2 separate regions of the Homo sapiens genome follow, and region 1 is linked to region 2. The links come from fine-mapping of genetic effects on gene expression. A gene starts in region 2. The other region holds a variant in brackets. All regions are shown on one strand. Distances are from middle to middle. Region 1 overlaps SH3BP2 (SH3 domain binding protein 2). Region 2 holds the start of SH3BP2 (SH3 domain binding protein 2).

The links. PIP is the estimated chance that this variant, and not a neighbour inherited with it, causes the effect.
Region 1: its variant is fine-mapped to the expression of SH3BP2 in whole blood (TOPMed, PIP above 0.99).

What each region holds. Positions count from the first base shown.
Region 1 is chr4:2,819,006-2,831,357 of GRCh38, reverse strand. It overlaps SH3BP2 (SH3 domain binding protein 2), which reads right to left. Exons shown (of 13, transcript NM_001122681.2): 2 at 10,605-10,744; 3 at 8,321-8,423; 4 at 6,628-6,745; 5 at 6,162-6,232; 6 at 4,040-4,128; 7 at 3,684-3,752; 8 at 1,211-1,865. The coding sequence starts at 10,740. Among named protein-coding and RNA genes, the nearest start is that of ADD1, 19 kb to the left of the region's middle. RefSeq lists enhancers at 3,637-4,522, 4,523-5,409, 10,769-11,270. The variant A/C (reference allele first, on the strand shown) is at 4,314.
Region 2 is chr4:2,787,574-2,799,925 of GRCh38, reverse strand. It overlaps SH3BP2 (SH3 domain binding protein 2), which reads right to left and starts at 6,841. Exons shown (of 13, transcript NM_001122681.2): 1 at 6,788-6,841. RefSeq lists enhancers at 1,081-1,420, 11,768-11,827, 11,410-12,044, 12,168-12,352 and a silencer at 6,774-7,123.

The sequences.
Region 1 (12,352 bases), 31 kb before region 2:
GGTCAGGGCTGCCATGGATGCTGGCAAGGGAGTCCAGGGTTCCCAAGCTCAGTGTCATCACACCGTCAACAAGTGCTCTGGATGCTCGTGGGGAGGGGAGGTCCGGTCATGGCCAAATCACAGCCCACTCAGAGCCACAGGGGAGTGGACGTGAACTGGATGAACAATGCAGTGTGACCCCAAAGGACGCCCATGGCGTCCCTGCACGCCTCCCTGTGTGGCTAGCCGGTCCTGCTCAGCAAAGCCTCAAAGGCTCTAGGGAGGATTAACGGGCCACGCCAGCATGGGAGGCCAGCCTGTGGGTGAGGCTGAGCCCTGGAACCGCTATCCCCACAGTCATGGAAAAACGTGACTTCCGAACATCTGCATCTCTGCAGCCCTTGGTGAACTAGAACCACGAGTGTGACAAGGGCTGCTCAGAGGCACTTCCACACAGGCAGCAGGCATCTCAGAGGTGTTCGCAGAGCCCTGGGAGAAGGGCACCGTGGGCAAGGGCATTCGGGGGTGCGCGTGCCGGCCAGCACACCCATGCGAAACCTGCCCCTCCAGTTCCTGGACCCTTTGCCTGCCAGGCAAGGCAGGAAGCCCACCTGGGGTCCCAGATGCCTTTGACCACAGCCATTGGCGTAACTCTGTGGGAGTGGGGGACAAACTGGTCTCCTGGCACTTCCCAGAAATAAAGCAGAAAGCATTTCAGCAGGACGCGGTGGCTCACGCCCGTAATCTCTACACTTTGAGAGGCCGAGGCAGGCGGATCACTTGAGACCAGGAGTTCAAGACCAACCTGGCCAACATAGTGAAACCCCTGTCTCTACTAAAAATACAAAAATTAGCCGGGCGTGTTGGCAGGTGCCTGTAGTCCCAGCTACTTGGGAGGCTGAGGCAGGAGAATCACCTGAACCCCGGAGGTGGAGGTTGCAGTGAGCTGAGATCGCACCACTGCACTCCAGCTTGGTTGCCAGCGTGAGACCCTGTCTCAAAAAGAAAAAAAAACAAAGCATTTCCAGCAAGCTTCAGGGCTGAGTCATGGACATGCTCCACGTTCCACCAAGGCGGACTGGAGGCAACCGGGAACCTTCCTACCCTTGCACCTGGTACCCCGTCGTGGGCTAAGAGTGCCAGGGGAGCGAGGTGGGCAGAGTGCCCGTCAGAGGCCAGGCCAGGGTCCCTGTAGCTGGAGGCAGGGCTTGCAGCCGCCACACAAACTCACTGGAGGTGCGGGAGCTGCGGCTTCTCTGGCCTGGGCAGGACTGCGGGCCGCGCCATGGCCTCAGGCACTGGCAGCTTCAGCGCAGGAGGCCGGGGAGCCACGGGGGGCACAAAGAGTCCGGGCATGGCTGCCTCCCTTGGGGGGTCCTCTTCAGCTATCTTCAGGAACTTGGGCTTGTTGGCTGGCACAGGTGGGGGCTCAGATGTGGGTGGTCCTCGGGGGGACAGGTGGAAGGACTTGAGTTTGTCACAGTTTCTGGAGGTGGCAGTGGCCATGATGGCAGCACTGGAAGTGGAGCAGGCCCCGTGGCCAGGGGTCCAGGGCTCCGGGCTGGGGCTGGCACTCTCCCGGAAGCAAGGGGGTTTCCGGAGGCCGGGTGCGGTGGGCATGGTGCTCAGAGGGGGATCGCTCATCCTTCGGGGGGTAGCAGGTACCCTGGGGCAAGGCTCAGCCCGCCTCGGGCACAGTGGGTCCCTCTTGGAGTCCTCAGCAGCCAGGCCAACATCTGGGAGGCCGTGCTTAGGGGGCGGGGGTGGCAGTAGGGGACCGGGGCCCTTGGAGGTAAAGGAGTGGGCCCGGGGCATGTCAGAGAAGGCTGGCTTCCTGGGCGTGGGCACTGGGGGTGGTGGGTAAGCCGGTGGGTGCATCAGGGCATCTGCAGAGCAAAGAGACCCGGGTTGGACCCTGACAGAGACTGGGCCAACACTATCCTCTGCTGGCAGTGGTCAGCCAGGCCAACCAGGAGTGCAACCCATGGTAGGCCCACCCCACAGCCTGCCCACCCAGCAGCCCAGCACCCAGCACTCCCATCCTGCCTTCCCCAGGGTCCCAGACCACCCACCACCCCCAGCCTTCCCCATTCATCCTCCCTATGGCAGCCTGTGGACGCTTCCTGAAGCCTAGAGGACACCTGAGGAGCCCATCAGGTTCCCAGAGGTGGAAGGAAGAGAAAGGAAGAGAAGTCAAGAAGGATCTCAGGGCTCGGCTGGAGCGAGAGGGAGGACGGAATTCCCAAGGACAGGGGAGGGGAGCAGCTGGGAGGAAGGTGAAGGCCCGTGTTTGCTCAGAACATATCCAGAAAGCTGGGAGATGCCAGGGGATGCGGGGTCAGGGAATGTGTGCAGAGTTCAAAAATCCAGGCTGGACATGACTCGGAGCGGGCAGCCTGCAGATGACCCAGGCTGTCACCCAGGGAATTCGGGAGAGGAGTGAGGTCTGAGTCCCGGGTATCCCTCATGGGGCCAGCACAGGAGCTGAGGAGAAAGAGGACCCCGGGAGCACGGGGCGCCTGGAGGACGGGCTGGCAAGGAACAGGGCAGGCGCCAGGCTGGTGTGGCTCAGGACTGAGCGCTGGAACTGGGAATGGGGAGGCCACAGGCGTCCTGGACGAGAAATGTCTCGGGGAGAGGATGAAGGGGGTACAGAGGGAGGGTGAGTGGAGCAGTAGCATGCAGGAGCACTGGTGGCTCCCCAGGCCCATCTCTAGCCTCACTGGGCTGCAGCTCAGGGCTGGGCAGACGGAGTCTGAGTTCACCAAGGCTTGGCCAGCCAGGCTAAGACGGAAGGCAGTAGTGTGTGGGCGAAGGGACAGGCATGGTGAACACTGTGAGACAAGAGCTCTGCATGGAAGGAAACTGAGGCAAGCGGCCCGCAGACCCTCGTGGGCTGAAGGACTGTTGGCACTGGGACCCCAGAGGGAAGGAGGGAGGGAGCGGCAGGAGAAGAGGGGCTGGACCCGGGAGCCTGAAGGTGGGAGTGGATGGGAGGCAGAGAGGATACGGGGTCAGGGGCTGGGGTCGGCAGAGGCCAAGTCAGTGAGAACAGGAGGCTGGAAAACAAGGAGGCAGGGCGGACGCAGGGAAAATGGAAGGATCAAGGATCAGCCCCAGACATGAGGAAATTGACAAGATGAGGGGGCTGGAGAGACAATAGGGAGGGAGGAAGGGAGGGAGGCGACAGAGGAGGACAGAGACACGTCCTCCCCACCCAGCTCGTGCTTCCGTCATCCACGTGTGACCACCTGTATCAGCCTGTCTCTTTGACTAGGCCATGTGCTGCAGGAGGTAGGTGGACACTGGGATGGGATGGGGTGGGGTGGGACAACGACCTGGCCTGCAGCAGTGTCCACACAAGCTGGCAGCCATGGGGACATGGACCTGCCCTGAGCCTGCGCGCTCCTCAGCGTCCTTCCTTCCCCATGCTTAACCCCCAGGGCCACCCCGGCTCCACCTGCCACTTATCGCCATGTGCCTGTCCCTCCTCCTGGGAGGTGGGAGGAGGAAATGAGCAGAGGTGGCAGCAGCTACACCTCTTCTGCTCCAATCCTCATAATACTTGGGACACAGCAGGGAAGCGGAAGCCACCCAGAGCGGTACCTGGGCCAGCATCCCCAGCCTCGGAGGGGCTCTGCTCCCGGTCCCAGCCCCTGCTTCCTACACACCCAGAGCTCCCCGGGCCCACCCGCCCCACCTACCCTCAAGCCTTCCGGGCTCCGGGGAGTCAGGCTCCAGGTAGGAGTCATCCTCATCGTCGTGCTCATAGTCTGCATGGGGAGAGGGGGGTGGTGAGAGCCAAACCGGCCCAGGCCCAGTCTCCGAGCAATGCTCCATGCATGGGGCTGAGTCCAGGAGGCAAGGGGCAAGCACCTGCTGGGAGGACTGTGAGTCCAGACCCTGCCGCTGAAGGCCAGAGCCCAGGGATGCTACTGCGCACTGCCAAAGGGCCAGAGCAAGGAGCACAGCCGAACACACCTCCCTCTCCTCCACAGCGGCCAAGAGGAGGCCAGGTGGGGAGAGGCAAACGGGCAGTGGATGCGGAGAAAGACCTCACCTTCATTGTCCGTGGGGTACGGGGAAAGGCTGATATCCACAGGCCGCTCAACTGCGCCGTAGAAGCTGTCTGTGTCCGAGCTGGAGTCGCTGCAATGCAGGGTGCGTTGGGGCGGACGGTGAGCACCAGGCCTGGGAGGTCCCTTGATGCTCACACAAAGGTACACACAGGCACACGCGGATACATGGACAGATACACAGATGCACACACGGATACACTGACAAACACATGCACACATGGTTAAGCTGACAGACACACACATGCACACACGGAT[A/C]CGCTGACAGACACACACATGCACACATGGATACGCTGACAGACACACACATGCACACATACTCTGACAAACACACAAATGCACACGTGCACACACAAGCACACGCAGGAACACAGGCACACAGGCATGGATATATATACACAAAGACACAGGGACACGCGCAGACATGTAGACACACAGACACAAGGACTCTGTCACACAGACATGGAAGTATACAGATAAACACAGATACAGGACAAGCACACATGTTCACACACAGACGAGCGACACACGGACACGCACACACAAACACAAGCAACACGCGGACATGCACACACACAGAGCAACATGCGGACATGCACACACACACAGAGCAACATGAGGACATGCACACACACAGAGCAACACGTGGACATGCACACACACACAGAGCAACACGCAGACATGCACACACAAACACAGAGCAACACACAGACATGCACACACACACAGAGCAACATGCAGACATGCACACACACACACACAGAGCAACACGCGGACATGCACACACACACAGAGCAACACGCAGACATGCACACACAAACAGCAACACGCGGACATGCACACACACAGAGCAACACGCGGACATGCACACACAAACACAGAGCAACACGTGGACATGCACACACACAGAGCAACACGCGGACATGCACACACAAACACAGAGCAACACGCAGACATGCACACACAAACACAGAGCAACACGTGGACATTGCACACACACACACAGAGCAACACGCGGACATGCACACACACAGAGCAACACGCGGACATGCACACACACGGAGCAACACGCGGACATGCACACACAGTTACAAGGACAGACAGAAGAACTGGAGGCTGTGGTGCCTCCACTAGGTGCCCCTTCTGGCCCACAAGGATGGCCGCCCTGACTGTGCCCACGTCTCCACCTGCTCCTGCCTCAAGAGGGCTTGGGCGACTCTGGGCTGGGCCCGAGGCTGAACAGCTTGGACCAGGGGACGGGAGCCCGGAGTCAGGCAGGGACCTGCAGGGCAGCCTTGGCTGTGCCCAGCCCTCCCTGGGCCTCCTGTCCCCACCTGTGAAAGGACAGGAAGGTTTGTTCCCTCCACATCGTCTCGGGCCAGGAAGTCCCAATCCAGAGAGTATCTGCTGCACGTCGGGCCAGCTCACGGGGGAGGCTGCCAAGGCTCAGACTGCCCAGTGGCGCCCCGCCAGGAGAATCATTCTGGTCTCACTCTGAGTGAGCCAGGGTGGGCGTAGGGGGCTGGGAACCCAAAGTGCCCAGCTGCTGCCATGCCAGGCCTCCCTGGTGGCAGGCGTATAAACACACATGATCCCCTAACAGGAACTACCCATGGCGGCAACACAGAAACAGATGTGACAGATGGGGCTGGAGGTAGACAGGAGCAGAGAGATGCATGCACACCTGTGCATGCTCTGTGTGTGTGTGCATGTCTGTGTGTTGCTCTGTGTTTGTGTGTGCATGTCTGCGTGTTGCTGTGTGTGTGTGCATGTCCACGTGTTGCTGTGTGTGTGTGCATGTCCACGTGTTGCTCTGTGTGTGTGCGCATGTCCACGTGTTGCTCTGTGTGTGTGCATGTCCGCGTGTTGCTTGTGTTTGTGTGTGCGTGTCCGCGTGTCGCTCGTCTGTGTGTGAACATCTGTGCTTGTCCTGTATCTGTGTTTATCTGTAGACAGGAGCAGAGAGACGCAGCCCAGCTGGCACCTCCAGGAAACCTTTAAGGACGGAATTCTATGCCAAGCCCGGGGCTGGGAGGCGGACACCCGGGTCAGGCCCAGGCGCCCCAGGGACCCTCACTGCCCGGTATGCCCTGGGCCCGGGCTCACCTGGTGTCCAAGGGCAGGTCTTTCTTTTCGTGGAAGTGGCCAATCTCCCTGCGCAGCAAGGCCATCCAGCTCTGCAGGTCAGCGGGGCTGTGGTGGGCACGGTGCCACCAGGGTGGGCCCCACCGCACCCCTCCACCTTCACTGCCCTGCCTGCTCTGCTGTGACTCCCAAGGTCAGAGGAGGCGACCCGGCTGGATACAACATGGCTGTGTGGCTCCCCTCAGCCCACAGGGGCACCTCCCAGGACAGCATGTTCCTTGTGTGGGCGCTGGCACCAGGCTCTGGGCATGGGGATGGAGCTGGGGCAGCACCCACCCAGCTGCCTGTGTCCCAGCCACACCTTCTCTTTGCCCGGGGCTGAGAGGCCAGCGCCCCAGGACCAGCGAGCCCCCAAGGCAGGTCCAGCCTGGTGCCTGCAGGCCCACACCCCCAGTCACCTTGCACTCGTCCTCGGACCCCCAGTCACCTTGCGCTCCTCCTCGGAGGAGGCCGAGAAGAACCACGTGCGGTGCTTCTTGCTGATATGGATGATCTTGAAGGGGAAAACGTTGTTGGACGTGGTCTCCTCAGCCGCCCGCATCACCCTGGGGGCACAGCGCCAGGGGTCACGGCCTGGTTCACAGCTATAGGGATGGCCTTCCCACAGCACCCCCCTGTGAACACGTCTCGGCACCAGCACCACGCCCCAACGGAAGAGGGCAGATCGGGTGGGCCCTGGCTGCTGATGCTCCCAGTAGTGAGCTTCATGCCCAGGCAGGCGTAAGGGGGCATGGAGGGGCATGGAAGAGGGGTGCTGGGTGGGCTTCGTGGGAGCAGCAGTGCACAGGAGACAAGGACAAACCTGCCTCGATGCCCGCCAATGCCACTTTACATGGACGCCACCCTCCCACCTCTGGCCCCATTTGCCCAGGCCTGCTTGGCCTCCCTGGGGTACCCCACAGGGCTCCGTGCCCCTGAGGCCCAGCAGCAGCCCTGAGTGCATTTCAGGGAATGACTCGTGCCTGCTCTGCGGCCCACTCACACAGCCAGGATGTGGGGTTTGCGCTGAGTTTATCACGTGGGGAGCCCTGCCAGCCAGGCACCGGGGCAGGTGCACTTATACGGCCCATAAGAGCCTGGCCAAAACTCCTCAGGCCCAGCATTCCCTGATGGGCTAGACAATTCCCTGGGGCATGATTGCATCTGCCACTGGGCCCAGGGTTCATGGCATGGCTGGCACATGCTGGAGGCCGGAAGGCGCTGTGTCTGTCTGCAGAAAGGGAACGACCTTCCCCAGGGGACCCCGGAGCTCTGTGCCAGCATGGGGGCCTGGCACCAGGCTGGGTGCTCTGGCAAGGCTGCCCTACCAGGCCTGTGGCCAGGGTGCAGGCCGGGGCCTAGAGTCACTCCAAAGGTCCCAGTTCCACTACTGATACCATGTGACCCTTGGTTCCTCATAGGCAGGAGGGGCTGGGCCCTTAAGGGGTGGTAAGAGGCATAGATAAATGCTGTGGGGTGCAGGGCTCCGATGGGATAGCAACCAGAACCAGAGCTGGGTGCCAGCATTAACCCTTTGTGTGGGCCCCAGGCCATGGGCTGTGCCAGTGCACTCCCCCACCCACATGCCACCTGGCCACCGCCCACCTGCCTGTTAGTGCAGAAGGCCCTCCAGGGCAGCTCATGGCCCATCACTGGATAGAGCCCAGCCCAGGACATGCGTGAAGCTGGAAACTGATCCCGGCCTGGGAGGACCCTGGAGCAGGGAATCCTAGGGCCCAGCCTCTGTTTGGGACAGGGCCTGGGCTGGCTGGGGTCTGGGCTGCCTGGAAAGAGGTCATGGTGGGTGAAGGGGCAAGGTGGGGAGGGAGGAGAGATGCAGAAGTCACTGGGTGGTGGCCGAGTGGAGACTCTGGAGAGCAGGCTGTCCAGGCCTCTGGGACTTGTGCACAAAGCCACAGGAAGACCCTGGCACCCCCAAGGTCCTGCGCCTGAGGGCAGGACACGCGGAGAGGGCGAGGCACTGTGGAGGCTGGGCGGGGAGGACAGGGGATGGGCACGAAGGCTGCTTCGGGAAAGCACTTTCCTTGGGCGGGAATAAGGGGCAGGCCCAGCTGGGGCTCTGCTGGGAGGGACCCGCTGGCTGTGGGGGCCCGAGGTCAGCAGGCAGGTCGGGCACTTACCGGTTATAGCCACTCAGGGAGAAGGCGCCCTGCGGGGAGGCAGAGGTGCTACTCTTGAAGTAGTAGACGCAGCGTTTGTGGATGATGACAAAGCGCAGGGGCCCTGTGGGAGGTGGCAAGGGCAGGAAGGTGAGCCTGGAGGGGCAGCTGCCAAGACCCACTGTGAGGACCCTCCACAGGACAACTTGGGGCCAGGCCTCCTGCCTCTAAGCCTTACCAAATGGAAGAGCAGGGAGCAAGGCTGGCATGCTGCCCCCTCCCCAGGAGCCCACTCTGGGGCCAAATACGGAAAAAATTGTAGGCACACTGGCTAGCCCCAGAGTGCCACCCGAGGGCAGGCCTGGCTGCCCACAAAGAAGAGGTAGATTTGGGGGGCTGTGTGGAGCCAGCATGAGGCAAGGCAGAGCCAGGACCAGAGGCCCAGGGAGGCCACAGCTGACTTGCTGGGTGCTGCAGGGCTGTTGGAGGCTCCCACTACCCCAGAGCTAAAAGAGGGGGACTAAGGCCGGGTGCAGTGGCTCACGCCTGCGATCCCAGCTACTCAGGAGGCTGAAGCAGGAGAATTGCTTGAACCCGGGAGTCAGAGGTTGCAGTGAGCCAAGATCGTGCTACTGCACTCCAGCCTGGGTGACAAGAGTGAGACTGTCTCTAAAAATAAAAGATGGGGTGAGCCTGAGCAACATGTGAAACCCCATCTCTACAAAAAATACAAAACTTAGCCGGACACGGTGGCATACATCTGTAGTTCCAGCTACTTGGGAGGCTGAGGTGGGAGGATCATTTGAGCCCAGGAGGTCGAGGCTGCAGTGAGCTGTGTTCGCACCCACTGCACTGCAGTCTGGGTGACAGAGTGAGACATAAAAATAATAAATAGGCCAGGCGCGGTGGCTCATGCCTGTAATCCCAGAACTTTAGGAGGCCAAGACAGGATCACTTGAAGTCAGGAGTTCGAGACCAGGCTGACCAACATGGTGAAACGCTGTCTCTACTAAAAATACAAAAATTAGCTGGGCGTGGTGGCACACTCCTGTAATCCCAGCTACTCAGGAGGCTGAGGCAGGAGAATTGCTGGAACCCAGGAGGTGGACGTTACAGTGAGCTGAGATCAAGTCACTGCACTCCAGCCTGGGCAACAGAGCAAGACTCCATCTCAAAAAAATAAATAAATAAAAAACAAAAATAAATAAAAAATAGGCTGGATGCGGTGGCTCACACCTGTAATCCCAGCACTTTGGGAGACCAAGGCGGATGGATCGCTTGAGCTCAGGAGCTCCAGGCCAGCCTGGGCAACATAATGAAATTCCATCTCTACAAGAAATTTAAAAAAAAATTAACAGGGCATAGTGGCATGCCTGTAGTCCCAGCTGAGGGGATCACCTGAGCCTGGGAGGTTGAGGCTGCAGTGAGCCATGATCACGCCACTACACTCCAGCTTGGGCAACAGAGCAAGACCCTGTCTCGAAAAAATAAAATAAAAGAGGGAGACTCAGGAGCCCGGAGAGTTTGCCAGTGAGAGCCACTGGTGTGGGGCCACCCCTAGGTGGAAAGTTACACTGAAACCACCCTAGCTCCACTGCCCCAGCCCTGTCCCAGGCTGGGGGACAAGCCAGTTACAGCTCCTCCAAGGAGGCTGTCTGTGCAAAGAGGAGAACAGCTCAACCAGTGCCCGTACAGGAACCAATCAGTCCAGCCTGGACATCTCAACCAGGCGGCCCAGGACCAGGGAGTCCCTGGCAGAGGGCACTGCTACTGCAAAGGCATGGAGCACCTGCTGCTCAGGCCCTGATGCTCTTGGCCTTCAGTATCTCAGCATTTGGGTATCTCTCAAGCCTGAGGGCTGCTTCTTCCTCCCAGCCAGCTGTCCTGGGGGCCAGAGCCTGGGTCTTGTGCAGCTCCAGAGGTCCAGCACCCAGCCAGGACTTGACACATAGGTTCACTGTGGGCGAAGTGACCAACTAACTCACTGAACATTCACGGATTCAGTGAGGGCAGCACCAGAGGCCAGACCTACCTGGCCACCTGTGGTCCCCAGGTCCTGGCTGCAGGCTGCAGCTCCCCTTGCCAGCTGGCCAGCACTGTGCACCACCCCGGACCCTGCTACAGTCCTGGGGGCTAGGGAAGTCAACCTCTGCTTCTCCAGGGGTGCCAGCCACCAGAGAGGGAATGGGAAAATCCAGAGGGCACACCATGTGAGGAAGCAGAGGCTTGGAGAGGATGCTTACTTACATGGCTAGCCCTGCCCCCATGCCCTCCTACTGTGCACCCTACCACCCCAGGGACTCACATTTCAGCAGCTGCAGCTGGGTACCGCCCTTCTTGTGCAGGTAGCCAGCCTTGGCCACGCCCCCAGGCATGGTTAGCAGGTTCTGGGCACCAATGGCCTTCATAGGGACAGGCCAATGCATCTCTTCAGCCGCCATGAAGCTGCAATAAAGGACAAAGGCACGTGGCTCAGCTACGGTCAGGCAGGAGATGGCTGAGCCAGGGCGCTCAGGGGGACACTGCCAAGATCCAGGACACAGCTTGGAGGGTAGGGCCATGACAGGCAAGGAAACCCCTTTTCTGAGGGCCTTGGGCTTCCAGGTGGGACCCCAGGGAGAGACAGAGCCACGGGCTCCACTCAGTCAGCCCCTGGTCCACTCAGCCACAAACCCAACCCCAGGATCCTGAGCGCTACGTGCAGCCCTTTCTCTCCACTGGTTCATTCTGCACACAGCCACTGAGCGCAAGGCCCCACGGGGGCTGGGTAGAGATGAACGAACTCAGAAAACTGCCAGCCCAGGTAAGTGAGACCTCAGGCCATAACTACTTCAAGTCCCAGTGCCAGGTGAACCTATAAGGGGCCTAGACAGGAAGAAGGCAAGTGAGCAGCCAAGAGCACCCAGCTCAAACGACCTGGGCTCCCATCCTGGTGTGACTTTCTGGGAGATCCCAAGCCTCAGATGCTGGAGGACAGAGTGGACACCCAGCCCAGCACACAGCACACTGTTGTCAGCAGTGGTCGTGACCACCATTTGGTGGGTTGGCTGCTATCCACCCCACCAGCCCAGGATATCACTCCCCTTCCCTCTGAGCCCAAGCGAGGACCACACAGTCAGTGGAGGACCAGTGACTGCCTTGGGGCTAACCCAGGCCCACAGGACCCAACATCATGCCCTGCCCCCTACTCCAGCCCCCCTTACTCATGCTCCAGCTGCTCTCCTTGAGATACACCATGCTGTTTAATGCTTCCTCCTCTGCCTGAAATGACCTCCACCCCTTCCCATGCAGAGAACTTCTACTCATCCATCAAGACCCAGGTTAAGAGTCCCCTCTTCTGCTAGGCACCCTCATTGCCCACTTAAATCCAGCATCTTCCTCATCTCTTGTCCCAGTGAACAGTACCCCCCGACCCTGCACTGTTTGGTCTGTGCCTGCCCTCACTCCATCCTGGGTAGGGTCACTCCTGTGGCCCCAGTGGAGTTGGATGGGAGCAGGCCTGTGGCCAGTGTCCTGTTAAGCCCTTAGTGGAGCAGCTAAGGTCAGACCCAGATGCCCAGTGGGGCTGGGACTGGTTCCACTACAGCTCCAACCCCAAAAAACATACATAAAGAAAACTAAGCCAGGGCAACATAGCAAGACCCTATCTCTAAAAAAAAATTTTTTTTTAATTAGTCAGGCATGGTGGGGTGCATCTGTAGTCCCAGCTGCTCTAGGAGGCTGAGGCAGGAGGATCACTTGAGCCCAGGAGTTTGAGGCTGCAGTGGTCTATGATCGTACCACTGCACTCCAGCCTGGGCAACAAAGTGAGACACTGTCTCTATAAATAAATAAAATAGCCGGACGCAGTGGCTCACGCCTGTAATCCCAGCACTTTGGGAGGCCAAGGCAGGCGGATCACTTGAGCTCAGGCGTTCAAGGCCTGCCTGGGCAACATATAGAGACAACCATCTCTAAAAAATAATTAGCTGAGCTTGGTGGTGCACACCTATAGTACCCGGAGGAGGCTTATCCAGGAGGATCGATTGAGCCAGGAGTTCCAGGAGGCAGTAA
Region 2 (12,352 bases):
AGCCCCACCAGGCCCTCGGGCCCCACCTCTCTAGCCCCTCTCCCTTTTCAAAACCAGGGTGTCTTTCACACAGCCTGAGCCCTCAGCCTGGCCCCTCCTCCTGCTCCCCCTCAAGGAGGCCCCCCCGGGGGGATCCGTGAGGCGCCCCTGGCATCTTTGGTGCTGCCTTTTCCCAGCTTCGTACTGGAAGGGCCAGGACCCTGCCTGCCGCAAGGGTGGCTCTGGGTAGGTCTTCGAGGGGGCCTGGGTCCCAAGTGGGTCCCCCCTGCTTCTCAGGACACCAGCCCTGGAATAGCTGTCCCCTTGATGCCAGCCGGCAGGAACCCTGGCATGGGGCAAGGCCCGCTAGATCCTCTGCAGAGGTGGGGGTTGGGGGTCCTTTCTCAATCTTCTTCCTTCCCCAGCAACTTCCTGCCCCAGAGGCAGGCACAGCCACCCCGACCACAAAACATCACCCTCCTGGTCACATCCTCAAGAAAATGGGAAGGTTGATCTCAGAGAGCCCCTGCCCCAAGTAGCAAACCTTCCTGAAGCCAGCACCCAGGACCCCAGGATGGCTCAGGGCTCAGAGGTGGCCACTGCCCCTCCCTCCACTTTACACACCCAGGGCCCCATCCCACCTCATTAGGCAGCTGCAGCCCAGGGTCTGAAGCTGAGCGAAGTCCAGTCGCGGTGAGGGTCCCGAGGGGAAGGCATTTCAGAGATTCCACCCCCAGGGTCCCGCCTGGGAGCAGCTCCTCCGGTGGGGAGGAAGGAGCCACCTGTGGGGACAGGCAGCCAGCAGGGGTACAGCAGGAACGAAGTCCTGAGGCAGGGCGGGTACGGGTGGCGGGTGGAGGCTGAGGCTGCACCCCTGAGCGCCATTAGTCCTAATCAGCCCGGAGGCCTCGATGACCTGACGCCGGCTTTGGAGTTTCCCAGGCCCCGTGCTGCGTGCAGCTCCTGGGGGGCCACTCCCACACACCCCGCCCCAGCAGCTGGATGGGCACACCCTCACCCTCACGCATCCCATGAGGCTGCACTTCCTGTCCCTGCCCTGCCCAGAGAAGGCGGAGGATGCCCAGGTCACACGGCCTGGCCTGGTGGAGCCACCTGAGCCACCCAGCACCTGTGTTCCTAGAGGTCTCAGCCTGGGAACGCCTGAGGCCACAAGAGGTGATGGCAACGGGAAGTCACTTCCCCCAGCTCGGGGGATGCACCCCCGTCATCTTCCCCTCTGCCCTGGTCAAACTCACTCTGCTGACCACTGATCTGCCTGCCAGGCCAGGCCCCAGCACTATCTGCCCAGCCATCAGCGGACCGCCTCGGGCAGCGCCAGCCACTCACCCCACTGGAAAGGGGCTTCCCTTTCTGGCCTCGAGTAGGAGGAGAGGAAGCAGCTGGGGTCAGGGAGGGGCGTTTCCGAGAGAGGAGATGAGTGCCGAGTTTCCTGGCCTGCCTCCTCTGGCTCTGAGCCTGGTCTCCATGCAGGGCTGTGTACCCCCACCTGCCACTCAGGGCTCCCAGGCCAGCTTTTCTGGATCTTTCCCCATTGCCCTCCTAATGGTGAGAAATCCGGCCTTTTGCTTGGACTTGCCTCAGGTGCCAGCTCTTTGGGACCCAAAGCCCTGGTGGCACAGGTAGGCCAGGCTAACTCCAATCTCAAGCCAACACACGTTTAGGAAGAGCAGCTACAGAGAAAGAAAGCACTTTCGTTCAGGGAGAGGACAGGGGACACCGACTCCGCTCGGCGGCTCTTCCTCACCAGGCTTTGGTCCTCCCTATCTACCGCTGCCAGGGCCACCGAGACCAGGCCCAGAAGCAGCTGGGTCCCTGCTGCCGGGTGGCAGGCAGCGGTGGCTGTCACAGCGCAGCCCGCAGGGGGAAGGGAGGAGGCTGTGATGGAAACCTGAAGAGTTTCGTGGGAGACCAAAGCACAACAGTCTGATATTATCTGATTGGAAACTCCACCAACTGGGCGGCAGCTGCCAGGCTGACTGGCACATTAGGCTCTGATGCTCAGTAGAGTTAAACACAGGTGGGGGGAGTGACAAGCCACCTTCAAAGAGCTTGGCACAGCCCGCCCGTTGCCCGCGCCACTTCCCTGCCCAGGAGTGGGAGGCTGGGAGAGCCGGCACTCCCCTCACCCTTCCTCTGGGACAGGCCCACGTGGGCACCACCAGGGCATGGGCTCTCAGACGCGACCCTGACCTTCCTGAGTTCCCAAGCAGGAGGGGCAGGCGGACAGGTCACCATGGATGGGTCAACATGCATGGTGGCCATAGACCAGGCTGGGGGCTCAGGAAGGCACCCAGCTCAGGGTGGAGTTGGGGGTGGCCAGGGAGGGTACCCTGAGCACCAAGCAGGACAGACACTTATGTCTTCAGCTGAAATTGCTTCTAAGGGAGAGAGTGGCAAGGTGGGCCAGGCAGGTGAGCTGCTACCCATGGGCACCTGCCAGCGGTCCTGCCCTCTGACCTGTGGCCTGTCTGCTCTTGCAGTGCATGCCTAGCCCAGGGCCCAGTACACAGGCACCCAGTGTTGCATGAGTGGGGCCCGGGGCTGGGCAGCAGCCTTCTGAAGGAGGTCCACCACTGCCCCAGAGGCAGAAACCAGGGTGGGTGGTAAAGGCGCACCACTGCCCCAGACTCCCAAGGCTGAGAAAAAGCCAAGGACCGCCCAGCATTCCAGGCTCCCAGAATGACCCCTGATCCCTTCCCACCTTGTCCAGGGGCAGCCAGCAGCAAGGGCCCACCCCTATGCCTAGCTCAGGACAGTGGACAGGGCTGCAGGGCATGGGGACCCAGGACCCTCAAATGCCACAGAAGAGCATCACTAGATTACAACACCCCTGGATCGAGGCTGAAGGAACTCCCCCAAACGGAGCTGCCCATTCACACAGTGTCAAGGGCAGGGAGGCCCTAGCTCGGGCCTGGGGATCTGGCCTCCCATGAGTTAGACCTACTTTCACCCCATTTCACAAGGAGGACGCTGAAGCCCTCAGACGAAGCCTGCTCTGAGCCCAGAACTCAGCTCCCCTCTGGTGCCTGAGAGAAGCTCTGTGCCGCTTCCCTCGGCCCCTGCCTCGCGGCCTCAGCCCCGTGTGCCATGGCACGCACACTGCCTTCTTGAGGCTGTTGCCTGCCAGCCTGGCTGACCCTGGGGTGGGGAGCTGGCCTCCCTCTGCAGGCTTGAGCAGACAGGCACCCTACGCCCCACCCAGCTGCCTGGAGCAGGCTCAGCAGGAGCGCAGTAAACATCTGATTCACAAGGAAGCAGAGGGCACTTCTTGGAATCAGCTCAGCTACAGGGATGGGGGTATGGATACCACGAGGGCGCTCTGCCAACCCCTCAGGGCTCCTCTGATCTCCCCAGGCAACTGCTCCAGGTGGCCGAGCCCACATTCTTCCCAGAGGCCAGCTGACAAAGATGGACCAGATGTGACCGGAATCCATGAAGAAAGGGCCAGTCACCTCAGGGCGTTGGGGCCAGCAGTTCCAGCACGATCTGTGATCGGGGGCCGGGAAACCAAGCAGGGCCTGACCACTCTCATGGCCTTGGAAGTTACAGAGCCTGGGGAGAAGAGAGAAGGTTGGGGGAGGGCACCTTTCTCCCCTCCTGGGAGCCTGCACCACCTCGAACTCCTGTCTGACCCAGGTCTCCACCCGCCCCGAACCTGGGCACGTGCTTCTCTCGCGTCACCCTTGAAGGATGAGTGTAGTCAGGGGCCCGGCACGGAACCCAAATCCAGCAGCGTGGTCCAGAGCCAGGGACTTCTGTCATCCCGTTTTGCAGATCAGGAAACTGAGGGTCAGGAAGTGCAATTCGCCTACAAGGCTCAGGTCTCCTGGCCCGTGGCTGAGGGCCAGTCCCTTGCTCTTGGCACCATCCTGTCTACCCTCCCGTGCACAGGCCAAGGGGTGGTGAGGAGGGTCCAGTGCCCCAGGGAAGGGGGCCAGCCAGTGAGCCTGAAATGCTCCCTACCACCCCCTCTGGGACTTAGGCAGCCCACACGTGGGACTGTCTCCAGCCCCTCGGTGTCCAGACAGGGCCACCAGAAGAATGCAGAGGCCTTCTGGGGAGGAGCCGCCTATCCTGGAGGAAGGATTCCAGGGTCTGCACGGCCCCTTCTCCTTGCCTCCCAGGCCCCTCCATACCCTCACCACACCTGGCATGCAAAGGCCACTCCCGTCAAACTGGTCTCCCACCCTCCCTACCGCCCGCCTTTGGCTTAGTCTGTCTGTACCTGCATGGCTGCCCGCCCGGCTCAGATCCCTCCTCCTGACGGCCCACCCTGTATTCATTGGCCCGAGGGGTGGGAGCCGCTCCACTGCGTCTGGGGTAGGACAGCTCTCACCTTGTGGCAAATTCCCCGTCTTTTCCCCGCCAGCCTGCCCTTCTCCTCACCCACCCAGGCTGCACAGTGATGGCCAAGCCACCCGGTTATTAAAGAACTATATACTCTGCCAGGCGTGGGGGCTCACGCCTGTAATCCCAGCACTTTGGGAGGTGGGCAGATCATGAGGTCAAGAGAGGACAGAGAGTGAGGAGGGCAGAGCCTGCCACACATAGTCACTGACCTGGGGTGTCCCCACAAGGGAGCTTTTGAGGACAGAACGCAGGAAGACCCAGGGGCTGCCCAACACTGGCCACTCCTGATGGACTCAGGCCTTAGTCCAATGTGGGCAGGAACCTGGGAGCCTTGGCCTTTACCCAGGCCTCTCCAGGCCAGTCCCTGCCCCCACCCAAAACAGGACATACAGCGGCCCTGAGGACCAGGGAGAGCACCCTCAGCGACCCACTGTCACTGAATACCAAGCACATGTCACCACCACCACCATCCCCCCTACGGACACTCATAGCCACCCACCAGGTACAAAGTGCTTCACAGCCCTCAGGTCATGGATGAGAAAACGGAGGGGTGGCAGGGGGAAGCCTCCTGGCCATGATCACACAGCTGGAAACTGGTGGCATCTGAGTTCACACCCAAGATCCTGGCTGAGTTTGCGCCCTTCCTCCCTGCCCCTCAGGAACCAAGGCTGGCCATCTCGTCTCTCTGGGCCCCTGGACTTCCCGTCTGTGGGCCTGCTTGTGTGCGTGCATCCCTGGGGGGTGGGGAGCTCCAGCTGACTCAGCACCCTGCTTCCTCTGTCCATGTGGGCAGAAAGGGCCAAGGCAGGCCCAGAGCCTGTCCTCCCTCTGTCTGCCTCTTCAGGCCAGCCTCCTTGGTGGGCTCCCCCATGATCCTGGAGGCCTGGGGACTCCCTGAAAGGCCAGGTCCCCTGTCAGCACCCCTCTCACCAGATGGCCCTGGCTGGCAGTTCCTAGACACGGCTGCCTATCTGTCTTCCTTCTGCCTGCCCCCTCCAGGGTGTGCCTAACGCAGGGCACAGAGCCAGGCAAAGGGAGCCTGGCGGGTGGCAGGGAGAGGGGATAGACAGAATCCTCACTCCCTTGCAGCCCTCGTCCCAGGCCTCCTGTCCTGCCAGGAGTGGAGTGCCTGGAGTGGGGCCCTGAGGTTGGGCTCCAAGAGGGCCCTTCGACGGTGTCTACGTAGAGGAGACAGTGGACAGAGTGGGAAGAACCAGGAGGGGGTGGAGCCCAGCCCCTCCTCTGGTCCCACAGGGCCTGAGCCAGTGAGGGCAGGAGCTTGTCCAGGCTCATGGAGTTGGTGCAGGGCTGACCTGAACCCAGAGGCTTGCTTCGGCAAGGAGGAGGCTGTGGGCCCTGCCTTCAGGCGGTTGTGGAAACAATTCTACACATTGCATCACCGGCCCATGTCACCTGCAAGGCCACACACATGTCATCCAGGCAGGCTGTCCACCCCAGCAGCCCACACGGAGTACCCGCCCCTGGCCACAGCCAATTCGAAGGACTTAAGTGTGGCCACTAGACCAGGAGGCACAGCTGTCCCCAGTGTCAACAGATGAGCAAACTGAGGCACAGAGAGGGGATAGGAGGTGCTCACGGAAAGGAGCACCAGCAGAAGGCTCCCCACAGCAGGGCTCAGGCCCTCAATACCCCCAGGGAGCCGAGGCCCAGAGCAGCGGGAAAGTGCTGGGCTGCAGGGAGGCCAGCGTACAGGTGGAAGGGGCTGTCCCCGCCCCCTAACTCCTCCAGTCCCTCTGCCACCCCTGAGATTCCCTGTTGCCCATGAGAGTCTCAGACGCCCGGCTATCAGTCACTCACACTTCAGTGTGAATCAGCGCCAGTGGGCGGCTTTTCTTGCCCTCCGTGAAGCGCGGCCGCTGCAGAGGGAAGTTTGGATTCCGGGAAGGGCGGAGAGCGAGTGCCCGCCGCAGCCTTTGAGTCTTGTGGGGAGGGTCGCGTAAAGGGGCCCCGCCGCGGGGCCAGAGGGGCGCGAGGGGTGCGAAACAGACGCGTCGCACCGCCTCCCACCCCTGAGCCCCCGGCAAGGGACACCCGGCCCCCGCCCCGAAGCCGCGCTCCCTCGGGCACTGCCCGCCGTGCCCAGGCCCCGTGCGTCCTTTGGCAAGGACACGGAGGCCCCGGGGCCCGGGGGAGGCTGCTGCGCACCCGAGACCCCCGACACCCGCCCATACCTGCCGGGACCCTGAGACTCCCCCGAGACCTGCCAAGACCTGCCGGGACCCCTGAGACTCCCCGGAGACTCCCCCGAGACCCCCGAGACCCGCCGAGACCTGTCGGGACCCCGAGACTCCCCCGAGACCCCCGAGACCCGCCGAGAGCCCCCAGACCGCCAAGGCCCGCCGAGCCCCTTCCAGACGCGGAGACCGCCCCCCCGCGAGACCCCCGAGACCCGCCGAGACCCGCCGCCGAGGCTTACCCGCCGAGCGCTCTCCTGGCCCGCGGGCCCTGGGTCGAGGCGGCGGCTTGACTCGGCCGCCAGGCGCTCCCGCCCGCGGGACCCGCCGCCGCCGCAGCTCCGTCCCGCCCGCGCCCGCCCAGTCCGCCCTCCTCCTGGCCCCGCCCCGGCCCCGCCCCTCCCCGGCGGGTCCCGCAATCCTGGAGGTCCGAGCTGGGCGTGGGGCGGGGCCGGTACCTCAGGGTGGGCGGGGAACTGCACGTGGCCTCCGCGGCCCCGGGACGAGGCCCCTGGGGGGCGAAGACTGGCGTTGTCGCGGGCCTAGACGCCGGGTCCACAGTAGGTGCTTAGTTCTCGCCCGTGAGTGAGGTAGCGTGTCTGTCCCTCCTGCGTGTCCCTCCCAGTGACACCCCAGTGCCCAGCGACCCAGGTGGAAAGGGCGCTGTCCACCCCCCCAGCCCCGTGGTCCTGATCCTGGGCGGCCCCACCCCTGCCCCGTGAGTGCGACTTAGGCCCTGGCCAAGACAGGAGCAGGGGAGGTGGGGGAGGGCTTGCTGGGCACCAGGAAACCTTGTCTTTGTTTCCAAATGTCCTCCAGGGTACTTTTCAGGCACTTCCCAGGGGGACCTCGCCTCTTGGACCAGGTCTGGACTCCGGTGGCCCAGAGGTCGTCTTGGGGCTGGGAGGCACAGGAGACCGGGTGCTTTACACTTGGCCTCCTCTGAGGCTCCCTTTCCTCCACCATCACCCTCTCCCTAAGAGTAGGCCCAGATGCCTTGGTGTAAGGGCAGGGGCGAGAAGAGGAGGGGCTTCCTGGGAGGAAATGGCTTCCCTGGGGAGCTCTCAGGGCCAGGTAGGTGGAGGGAGCCGTGGAGAAAGTGAAGAGGCTGGGGAGACCAAGCTGGGCCTGCAGAGCTTGAGGGCGAGCGGACCCCCCACCAGTGCGGGAGTCAACTGCTTGGGGCGTGGGGGGACTCCTCCCCATGAGGAGTGGGGACTGGACCCCAGGTCCCAGAGCCCAGGAAGCTGTGAGTAGAGGAAGGACAGGATCTTGCTGGGAACCCAAGGGAGCTGGGGGTGGGTGGTGGTGACCTGGCCCTGTCCAGGCAGGCGGCCAAGGTCTGACCCTCTGTACTGAGCACAAGAGGCCAGAGTCCAATGACAGGGGCTGAATTGGCTGCTCCAAATCAGGCAGGGGCAGGGGTGTCCAGGGCTGGCCCTGCAGCAGGTGAAGGACTGGGTTTGGGTCCTACAGGTTGAAATACCTGAGGGCCTCCAGGAGACACAGCCAAACCAAGCGGGTTCTCAGGGTTGCAGCTGGACCGAGTGTGGGCCAAGTCACCGTCCACCTGTCCCAGAGCTGCCCAATAATGGGTCCCAAGCCTCAGAAAGGGGATCCCTGGCTGCAATAGCCCTCCTCCCTGCTGGAGAGACACACTTGGGATCAGAGAGGTTAACTGGGGAGGGGAGTAAGTGGGAGGAGTCAGAAAACTAGGTGGCCAGGCCCTGAGCCCAGGCATAGAGGAAGAGCCAGTGCCTACCAGGAAGTGACCAGGACCAAGGCAGGGCCTCTGGAAGGGAAGGGACAAAGCAGGGGATGGCAGAGGCAGGGGAGGATATGGGAGAGTCTTCAGACAACAGGGCCCCTTTTCCCCATCTGTGAAATGGAGGGGGTCCTCTACTGGGGAGGCGGCAGAAGTGGATGGGGCATGACAGCAGGCAGATACTCACTCTACCTGGCCCAGGGCCACCCCTCACACCGGCGCTGGGGCTGTGACTCTACCCACCTACAGCCTAGCTCTCGGGGCTGAACTTAGACCCCAGTGAGGGAGTAGATGGGTGCTGGCTGGCTGGGGTGCTCACTCTCTGGGGTGCCTGCTCACATCCCCACCTGTAAGTGTCCTGGGCCTGGCTCCCCAGGTCTCAACTCTGCTCATCCCAGCATTGGGTAGCCTGCAACTCTTCTGCCCACCCCCCACTCTGGGCTATTTCACATTTTCCTAGCAGGGAGGAAGAGATAGGAACTACAGCCATTGTGGAAGTGGCTGGGCTCAGCCCCATCCGACGTTCAGTGCTGCCACTGTTAGCACCGCATGGGGCTGCGTCACTCCTGTAAGAGGCCACATGCGGAGGGAGCTCCAGGCTGGGCCAGACTGGTCTAAGGCTCCTGACAAAACACTCATGACCTTGGGGCTGTACATCTTGATGTCCCTGATGTCCAGTTCAGCTAAATAAATGCCTGGCCCCACACCAGACCCCGGGGACCCAAGATGATACAAGGAAGTCCCTACCCTTGTGGCTCACGAGAGGAGCAAATGGACAAATGAGCAGATGCCATTGGGTCACAGCAAGTGTCCTGTTCCCAGGGGACCAGCTGGGGAAAGGGGCAGAGACCGGGAGGGGAGTGGAGCAAAGCCAAACGTCGGTGCGGCCCCGCCAGGGCCTGACTACAGGGCAGGGTGTACAGGGCTGGCCTCAGATGCCAAGCTCAGAGTTGACGGAGCAGGGTCACTGCAGACAGTGTGGACGGACCAGGCGCCTAGAGAATGATCACCCAGAAATGCAAAGCACCTCTGTGCAGGGCACCTCAGCCAAACAGGGGGAACAGGGTGCAGCCTCCACCGTGGGGAGAATCCCACACCTCATATTCCTCCCCTTCTCCCCCCTTACCAGTCCAACCCCAGGGCGTGGGAGGAAGGAACTCCTAGTTGGGGCCTCAGGGCAGCTCCCAGCAGCCCCTCCGAGCAAGAAGCTGCTGGAGGCTGTGGCCAGAGCCTCTGGGCACCCAGGGGTTCCGCTGAGGCTGACAGAGCAGGGATGGGTGAGGAGGATGACCTCGCCTGCTGGGAGGGTATGCAGGGCAGGTGAGCAGAGGTAAGGCGAGGACCCCTGGCCGGCAGGGAGCTGGGGAGCAGACCTCCACAGGGCACATCCGGGGTAGAAGCCCATGGTGATGCCCCAATCACACCCACAGAATAAGGCCAAAGAGAAGGGGGCCGGTCCCCCGCCACACCCATCCCCCGTGTGCCATCGGCCATGCCACTGATTTGGCAGGACCCAGAACAGGCAGAGGCAGCTGCTGTCTGGGGGGTAGGGCAGGACCTGCTGAGGGTGAGGCTGACGGTTAGGATGGCGAGGGCAAGATCTGCCGCTGGTCTACGTGTCACAGGCGTCCCAGCAGGGGGCTTCATGCGCCTGCCAAGTCTCTTTTTCCTTCCCTGGGCCAGCAACCCTGGAGTCGTCCGCACTGATGCCTCTCTGCTCGCCCCACATCCCGTCCGCCCTGAAGGTTCTGTTGGCAAAGCACACCTGGAATCCTGCCTTTCTCAGCCCCTGCCTGCCTCATCCTCCCTCTCCTGCGCTTGCCTGGCAGTGTCCATCATCACACCAGAGGGGTGCAGTCACAGTGTGAGTCAGGTCATGTCACTTCTTCACTCAGAACTTTCTGTAGATCCCACCTCCCCCAAGGCAAATGCCTTCTATCCTTGCATGGGCAGGGCCCAGACCGAGCCTGTGCCACCTGCCTGCTCCCTGAGTTCTCTCTCCATAGCCCCGCTTAGCATTGGCCACACTGGCCTCCTGTCTCCTCCAGCACCGCAGACACATTCCCACCTCAGGGCCTTTGCACTTGCCATTCCTGCCCCTAGATCACCCTTGGCGGGTGTGCCTGGACCCCTCGCTTCCCTTGGTCTGGGCTCTGCTTCCAGGGCACCTGAGTTACAAAATAGACTCCCAGTGCATGATTGGTGAATGAACAGACAAAGGCCTCAAGGGGCAGCCCCAAGGAAGGGGCTAGGTAGGTTTTGTTTTTGTTCTTTTGTTTTGAGATAGGGTCTCACTCTGTTGCCCAGGCTGGAGTGCAGTGGCACTGCAGCCTCAACCTCCTGGGCTCAGGTGAGCCTCCCACCTCAGCTGGGACTATAGGCATGTGCCACCACACCCAACTAATTTTTATTTATTTATATTTTTTATTTTTTTGTAGAAATAGCGTCTCACCATGTTGCCCAGACTGGTCTCGAACTACTGGGCTCAAACGATCCACCCACCTCAGCTCCCAAAGTGCTGGGATTACTGGCATGAGCCACTGTGCCCATCCTAGCCAGGTTTTGGAGCTGCCACCTGGGTCCCGTGTCCAGAGGACCTTGGAAGCATGGACCCTGCCCTCCCACCTGTCCCTGTCCCCAGGAGTGGCCCCACAGTGATACAGTGTACCACCTCACCAGGCCGCCTCGCTAGGAGAGGCAATTCCTGAGTAGGGCCAAGGCCACAGGCTTCCCACCTGCTTCCCTGGGGATAGGAGGGGACAGGTTCCCACCCTACCTCCCCCAATCCCCACTCCCTGGGGGAGGCTGTGTGGAGTCATCCTGCCACACAGTCCAGTCCCCTGGCCACACAGCCCAGCACTGGAGGGAGGGGCAGAGGGGGTGTGGGGGAGGATTGTGGCTCATGGGAAGAGGAGTTTGAGGAGGCAGGCTGGGCCTCACACGCAGGCATCAGTCTGGCTCTGAGGACAGGGCTGGGGGCTGGCATCTCTCCCAGGAGGCTGGGCTGGTGGCAGGCACTCTGGCAGGGAGGGCAGGCTGGACAGGAGTGGCCCCTCCCAGGCTCTGGGCCATCTCTGCATCCCAGGCCAGGCCTGGCTGCCTCACGCCTTGCCCTGGGTGGGATGGGGAATATTTTCTCCTTTACCGAATGAAGGGGAAAGGAGCAGCCTGGGGCTGGAGGGGGAGCAGTGGAGGTTGGGTGGGATGGTAGGACGTGTGTGCTGGTTGAGGGGTGGAAGCATGGAGGCCCGCTCAGGTCTCAGCCAGACCCCACGCCAGAGTGCCCTGCACACTGGCCTCCCCTCTGCCTCCACTGCCCTCCAGCGTCATCCCGGGAAAGCCAGCTCAGTAGCATTACCCCAGGGGACCTCCCCAGACCCCCACAGTCATGCCCAGATGTGCACCTACATCCCACCACACTGCCCAGAACTAGCCTTCCTCACCACCCCATCCCACCCCCTAGGCTGGGGCGCCTTGAGGTCAGGGCTCTTCCAGTGGCTCTGGTCCCCAGGATGGTCCAACACGGGGCCCTGCTCAGAAAACATCCTCAGTGGGTGGCCCCAGCCTGTGGGCTTCTGGCCAGCTGCCCTCAGTGAGCCTGTGGAGGGTGGGGCCCACAGCCAGCTTGCCCACTGCCCCTCGTGCCTGGGACAGGCCTGGCTTCCTGGCCAGCCTGAGAGCTGGTAAAGGCTGACGAAGTCGGCGAAGGCTCTTTGGGGACAGTAGGACTGAGCTGGGCTCCCACAACCTGGGAGGACTCTCCTGGCAGGGGCACAGCGCTAGAGGGCAGAGTGAGGGAAATAGAGCCAGAGTTCACGCCAGGTCAAGGGCCAGCCAGCGCCCCCAGGCCACCAGCACTCCCCAGGAGGGCCTGCCCTGCCTGCCTGGCTGCCACACCTCTAGCCCAGGTCAGCTGCTGGCTCTGTCCTCTGAGGTTTGCTTGAGTCAATTTTCTACATAAAACGAGAGTGTCAGGCAGGTCCCATTAGGAAGCTCTATTTTGTAATACCAGGCCTGTGGGTGGAGGACCCAGGACCCACGC